Regions from separate parts of the Homo sapiens genome. Here region 2 is linked to region 1. The links come from fine-mapping of genetic effects on gene expression. Tissue or cell type: whole blood. Region 1 holds a variant in brackets; the other region holds the start of a gene. All regions are shown on one strand. Distances are between the middles of the regions.

Evidence for each region. PIP is the estimated chance that this variant, and not a neighbour inherited with it, causes the effect. A credible set is the group of variants that fine-mapping cannot tell apart.
Region 2: RPS17 starts here. The variant in region 1 is the best candidate, but not a certain one, in a credible set for the expression of RPS17 in whole blood (TOPMed, PIP 0.50).

The regions. Positions count from the first base shown.
Region 1 is chr15:82,818,009-82,820,859 of GRCh38, reverse strand. It overlaps WHAMM (WASP homolog associated with actin, golgi membranes and microtubules), which reads right to left. Exons shown (of 10, transcript NM_001080435.3): 4 at 2,771-2,851; 5 at 1,372-1,537. Among named protein-coding and RNA genes, the nearest start is that of WHAMM, 9.8 kb to the right of the region's middle. The variant T/C (reference allele first, on the strand shown) is at 1,617.
Region 2 is chr15:82,538,964-82,541,630 of GRCh38, reverse strand. It overlaps RPS17 (ribosomal protein S17), which reads left to right and starts at 1,174. Exons shown (of 5, transcript NM_001021.6): 1 at 1,174-1,205; 2 at 1,499-1,650; 3 at 2,646-2,667. The coding sequence starts at 1,203. RefSeq lists an enhancer at 317-818 and silencers at 938-1,037, 1,048-1,167.

The DNA of each region.
Region 1 (2,851 bases):
GCAGTGGCACCATCTCGGCTCACTGCAATCTCCACCTCCCAGGTTCAAGCGATTCTCCTGCCTCAGCCTCACAGGTAGCTGGGATTACAGGCGCCTACCATCATGCCCAGCTAATTTTTGTATTTTTAGTAGAGACAGGGTTTCAACATGTCGGCCAAGCTGGTCTTGAACTCCTGACCTCAAGTGATCTGCCCCACTCAGCCTCCCAAAGTGCTGAAATTACAGGTGTGAGCCACCACACCCAGCCTGGGAGCATCATTTTAAATGTACAACCTATCTAGAGGGTCATTATGTAGCATGAAATTTAGAAATCAGAAAATAATATGGAGGTGAGGAAAAATGTATCTCAGATGATTATTGTACTGTTATGTATCAAAATGTAAAATATACATTGCCCTTGACCCAATAATTCCATCCTTAGAAATTTATTCCAAGGAAATAATCTGTCCTATACTCAAAGACATGTGTAAAGTTCACTACACTACTGTTCAAAACACCTGAAATTTGGAAATCATGGTATATCCATATAATGGAATACTATGCAGCCATTAAAATTTTGATACTTTTATTATTCACTGAAATAGAAAGACAGTTATGTATTAAATGAAAAAGAGACTATTATGCATTATATGCCTATGTCAAAATATCTCATGTAACCCATAAAAATATATATCTACTATGCACCCATAAAAATTAAAAATTGTTTAAAAAGATGTTACTGAACTGGTTATATATTTTGGTTAAAAATTTATATTTTTATATATCAGCATATTTTAAAATCTACAAAGTTATACAGCAAATTGTTACCACGAAGTATCTTTTTTTTTTTTTCCTTTTCAAGATGGAGTCTCGCCCTGTTGTCCAGGCTAGAGTGGAGTGGCACGATCTTGGCTCACTGAAACTTCCACCTCCCAGGTTCAAGCCATTCTCCTGCCTCAGCCTCCCAAGCAGCTGGGATTACAGGCACGTGCCACCACACTGGACTTTGTGTTTTTAGTAGAGACAGGGTTTAGTATTTTTGTATTTTTAGTAGAGATGGGGTTTCACCATGTTGGCCAGACTGGTCTGGAACTCCTAATCTCAAGTGATCTGCCCGCCTCGGCCTCCCACAGTGCTGGGATTATAGGCGTGAGCCACTGTGCCCAGCCAACCACTAAGCATCTCTAGATGATGGGATTGGGGTAATAATCATTTTTCTTTCTTTGTTTTGCTATGTGTTAACAATGAATATATTATTTGAATAATAAACCACTGAAGGAAAACTTTAGGAAATTTTCAGATGTTATAATTTACAAAAAGTAATTGATAATATGGTCTGTATTTCCTTAAATTTATAATTTAAACATTGCAATCTATATACTTAAATTTTACCTTTTATAAGTCTTTTAAGAGAGTCCAACTGTGTAGTAAGCAGTATTTCTTCGTTTTTTAATATCTCAAATTTAACTTCATATAGTTCTAATTGAATTTCATAAAATTGTATTTCTAATTCATCTACAACATTTGTATTTTTTTCTTGTTCTGGAAGATCTTCCATCTTATTTTCATAGAAAAAAGAAAAATAAGTTAAAATAAATTAGTATATTAAAAACAAACTTTAGAAGCATTCTAGCTAT[T/C]TTCTATTCCTTGTTCAGTACTAAATATAACAAAGCAAATAGGAAAGAAACACTTTTTCATTTCATCTAGTGATGCAAATACTTTATCTCATCCTTGAAACAGAGGAAAACATTTAGGTTCTGAGAAACATAAATGGCAATGAGGTATTATTATGTACTGCATATTGGTGTCCCCCCAAAAATTCGTATGTTGACACTCTAACTCCCAGTGTGATGTTATTTGGAGGTGGGTCCTTTGGAAGTAATTAAGTTCAGATTATGTCAAAAGGATAGCACCCCCATCATGGGATTAGTGCCTTTATTAGAAGAGAAAGAGAGGGATCACTTTCTTTCTAAACATACACACAGAAGAAAGGCTATATGAGCACTCAGTTAAGAAGGCAGCTGTCTACCAGACAGGAAGAGGATCCTCACCGGACAGTGAATCTGCAGGCACCTTGATCTTGGACTTTCCAGCCTCCAGAACTGTGAGAAATACATGTCCGTTGTTTAAGCCACCCAATCTGTGATATTTAATCTTGTTATAGAAGCCTGAGCCAACTAAGACAGGTGTTTACAGTGTTTTCTGCTTTAAAGTCATAAGATTATAGGAAAAAATTTAAGTGACTATGCAGTGAAGTATCTCTTTGATTATTTTAAAGTTGTAGTGAAAACATTGCTGGGTTGATTTTCAAGTACAGTACCCATTTCAATACTGAGCTTGGTATTACTATAAAGTGAAACCTACAATATGGTATTTTGAAACATCTTAACCAAAGGAAAACTTTATGTCTAACCTTCCACAGAAGATGGTGTTGGAATAAGCGAAGAAAAGAAGCTCTTTAACGATGCCTGGAAAGAAAAGTGCTATCTAAAAATAAAAGTGTGCTTTACCACATGGTCTCACTTATAAGTGGGAGCTAAGTAATGTGTATACACAGTGTGGAATAATACACACTGGAGACTCAGAAGAGTAAGAGGGTGGGAGGGGGGATGAGAAATATTTAATAGGTACAATTACATTATACAGGTGATGATTACACTAAAAGCCCAAACTTCACCACTACACAATATATCCATGGAACAAAAACTGCACTTGTATCCTTTATTTATACAAAATGTTTTAAAAATAAAAGTGTATTTTTAAAACAAAGTTATGTTTATCTTTGTCTTACCTTTCCCTGAATTTCAGCTCTTTTGTGATTTAAACACAACTCTTTCGCTCTCATGAGTTGCAGAGTCTCTCGAGCTAGCAT
Region 2 (2,667 bases), 280 kb after region 1:
GACTCCGTCTCAAAAACAAAAACAAAAACAAAAACCCTGATCTTTCACTTCGGGCCTGACAGCAGCTTGACTGGAAGTTTGCTCCCGCAGTTCTGAGATTCTGGCCTTTTCTTTTGTCCCATTGGTACTTTTTGCTGCCAGGGTTTCCTGTCCTTCAGGTTTCCATCCCCAATCAGTTGAGAGTCCGACTGGAGTACCCAAGGTGCGTTGAGGAATGAGGCACAGCCCTGGGCTTAACTCATCCAGCCTGGCCAGCTCAGCCTTCCCCTGTCAGGTGGGAGCCTAGGATTGCTGTCAGCCCAGGGAGCAGAGTTGGAAGAAGGGGGCAGGGCCCTACCTAGGCTGCGGCCCATCGGGGCAGCCTGCGCTGGTGGCTTCGGAAGGCCCTGGTTTGAGGATGGGTGCGGCAGGAACAGCCTGAAGATAGTGGATGGAGAAGGTACCTGAGGTGTTGGGAGCTCTGCTGGTGAGCTGGGCCCTTCACGTCAATGTTAGAGGTTGTTACGTGCTAGGCGCTGTTCAAGCACTGGGAATTAGCTAAACAAAATGACCATTACTGTCATGGAGCTCACCCCTAGTTGAGAAAAATAAGCCGAATCACACGGCAAGTGCTAGGAAATATAAGCAGGGATAGTGAGGGAGTTATTTTACCTAAGTTTGAAGGGAAAGCCCTCTGATAAGGCGACATTTGAGCAAAGGCCCGGAAGAAATGAGATACGTCTCGCCCAGTCGCACCCTGTCTCTACCTGACAAGTCTCCGGCCCGCGGACTGAGTGGGGGACCTGGGCGGCCGCCATCCCCCACTTCCTCATTGTTCCACGGCCCTGGATCGCCTTCTTTTCTCGGTCCTCCCGAGGACCGGATGCTTCTCCTCTCCCTGGCGTGTGTGGAAGAGATGGACGCTACGCTAGAGCACATCGCACGGGCGGTCCCATTAAAAATCAGATGGGGGAGAGAAGCGAGCCCAAGTCAACCGAGGGGAGCGGGGAGCGGAAAGGGAGGAGCCGTCGGGGGCGGGACAGACACCCTGCCCACCGGAGGGGCGCGCCACCGCCGCCCCCGCTCCACTCCGCCAGGGGGCGCTGTGTGGCTCCCGAGTAGGCTCAGAGCGACCGTGGCCGGGCGGAAGCGGCTTTCTGGCCTAAGCTTTAACAGGCTTCGCCTGTGCTTCCTGTTTCCTCTTTTACCAAGGACCCGCCAACATGGTAGGTGTTTTGGCTCGAGGCCGCCATCCTCCACAATCGTCCCCCATCTGCAGCTTCCCGCGGTCCTCAGCCCACAGAGAGGCCCTGGGCCGGGAAGGCGCAGAGCCCTGTCAGGCTGGAGCGCAACGGGCCGGCGGCTTCCGCATTAAGCCCGGCGCCCGGCACTGTTTAGCCGGGCCCTCTCCGGCTCAGCGCAGCCGGCGGTCCCCAACCACACCGGCCGGGGCTCGGCGCCGCACTCTTCCCAGAAGGTTGCGCTGGCTCGTGAGTGATCCTGTCCTCTCCACCCGCAGGGCCGCGTTCGCACCAAAACCGTGAAGAAGGCGGCCCGGGTCATCATAGAAAAGTACTACACGCGCCTGGGCAACGACTTCCACACGAACAAGCGCGTGTGCGAGGAGATCGCCATTATCCCCAGCAAAAAGCTCCGCAACAAGATAGCAGGGTGAGTCGGGCCTTCCTCGGCCTCCGGGGCTCCGCGATCTGTTTGTGTGCTCTGCCGCCCTCCGACTCGGGAAGAGACGGTGCCTTGGTGGTTTCGTTAGCCTGAGACTCCCTGGTGTCCCGGAGAAGGGCTAGAGCTCTGCGTGTGCAGGATTTCTGTTGTGAACTTAGGCCTGTGTCATGACTGGCCGCGGTGACCCTGGGTCGAAGGTAGCCACCGTCAGACCTCTTGCTTTGAAGCTACGTTGCTTTTAGTTGTCAACTTTTTTCTTTCTTTTTTTTCTTTTTTTTTTGAGACGGAATCTTGCCCTGGCGCCCAGGCTAGAGTGCAGTGGCGCCATCTCGGCTCACTGCAACCTCCGTCTCCCGGGTTCAAGCGATTGTCATGCCTCAGCCTTCCCAGTAGCTGGGATTAGAGGCACGTGCTACCACACTCGGCTAATTTTTGTATTTTTAGTAGACAACAGGGTTTCACAATGTTGACCAGGCTGGTCTCGAACACCTGACCTCAAGCGATCCGCCCGCCTCGGCCTCCCAAATTGCTGGGATTACAGGCGTGAGCCACCTCGCCCGGCTGGATGTCAACTTCTAATGCTTACTTCACAGTTGCAGTTACTGTTCGAGAGATTTATAGGCATATGGCCTGGAAGAATAGTGCCAAAGTCAACGTATTAATTGCCAAGTTATGTGAATTTGAAATTGGAAGAAAATGAAGGCTGTGAAGGGTCGTGAAACTGCGGGGCGGGGCGGGGCGAGTTGGGGGTGGGGCGCTTGATCATCATGAAGGAGAGTTTGAATAGAGAGTGAGAAACCAAGGGGAAGGAATGCTCAGGCCAGTGGAGGTTCTATGTGTAGGAGGTCCCAGGATAGTGAGTCCTCTTCCTTCTCACTGTGGAAAAGAACTAAAGCGGGTATTTATATATGCACATGTGCTCAGTACCAGGTGGGAGTTGATTTGTCTTCTCACTGTTCTCTTTGGCTGTGTGTGCTTTGTAGTTATGTCACGCATCTGATGAAG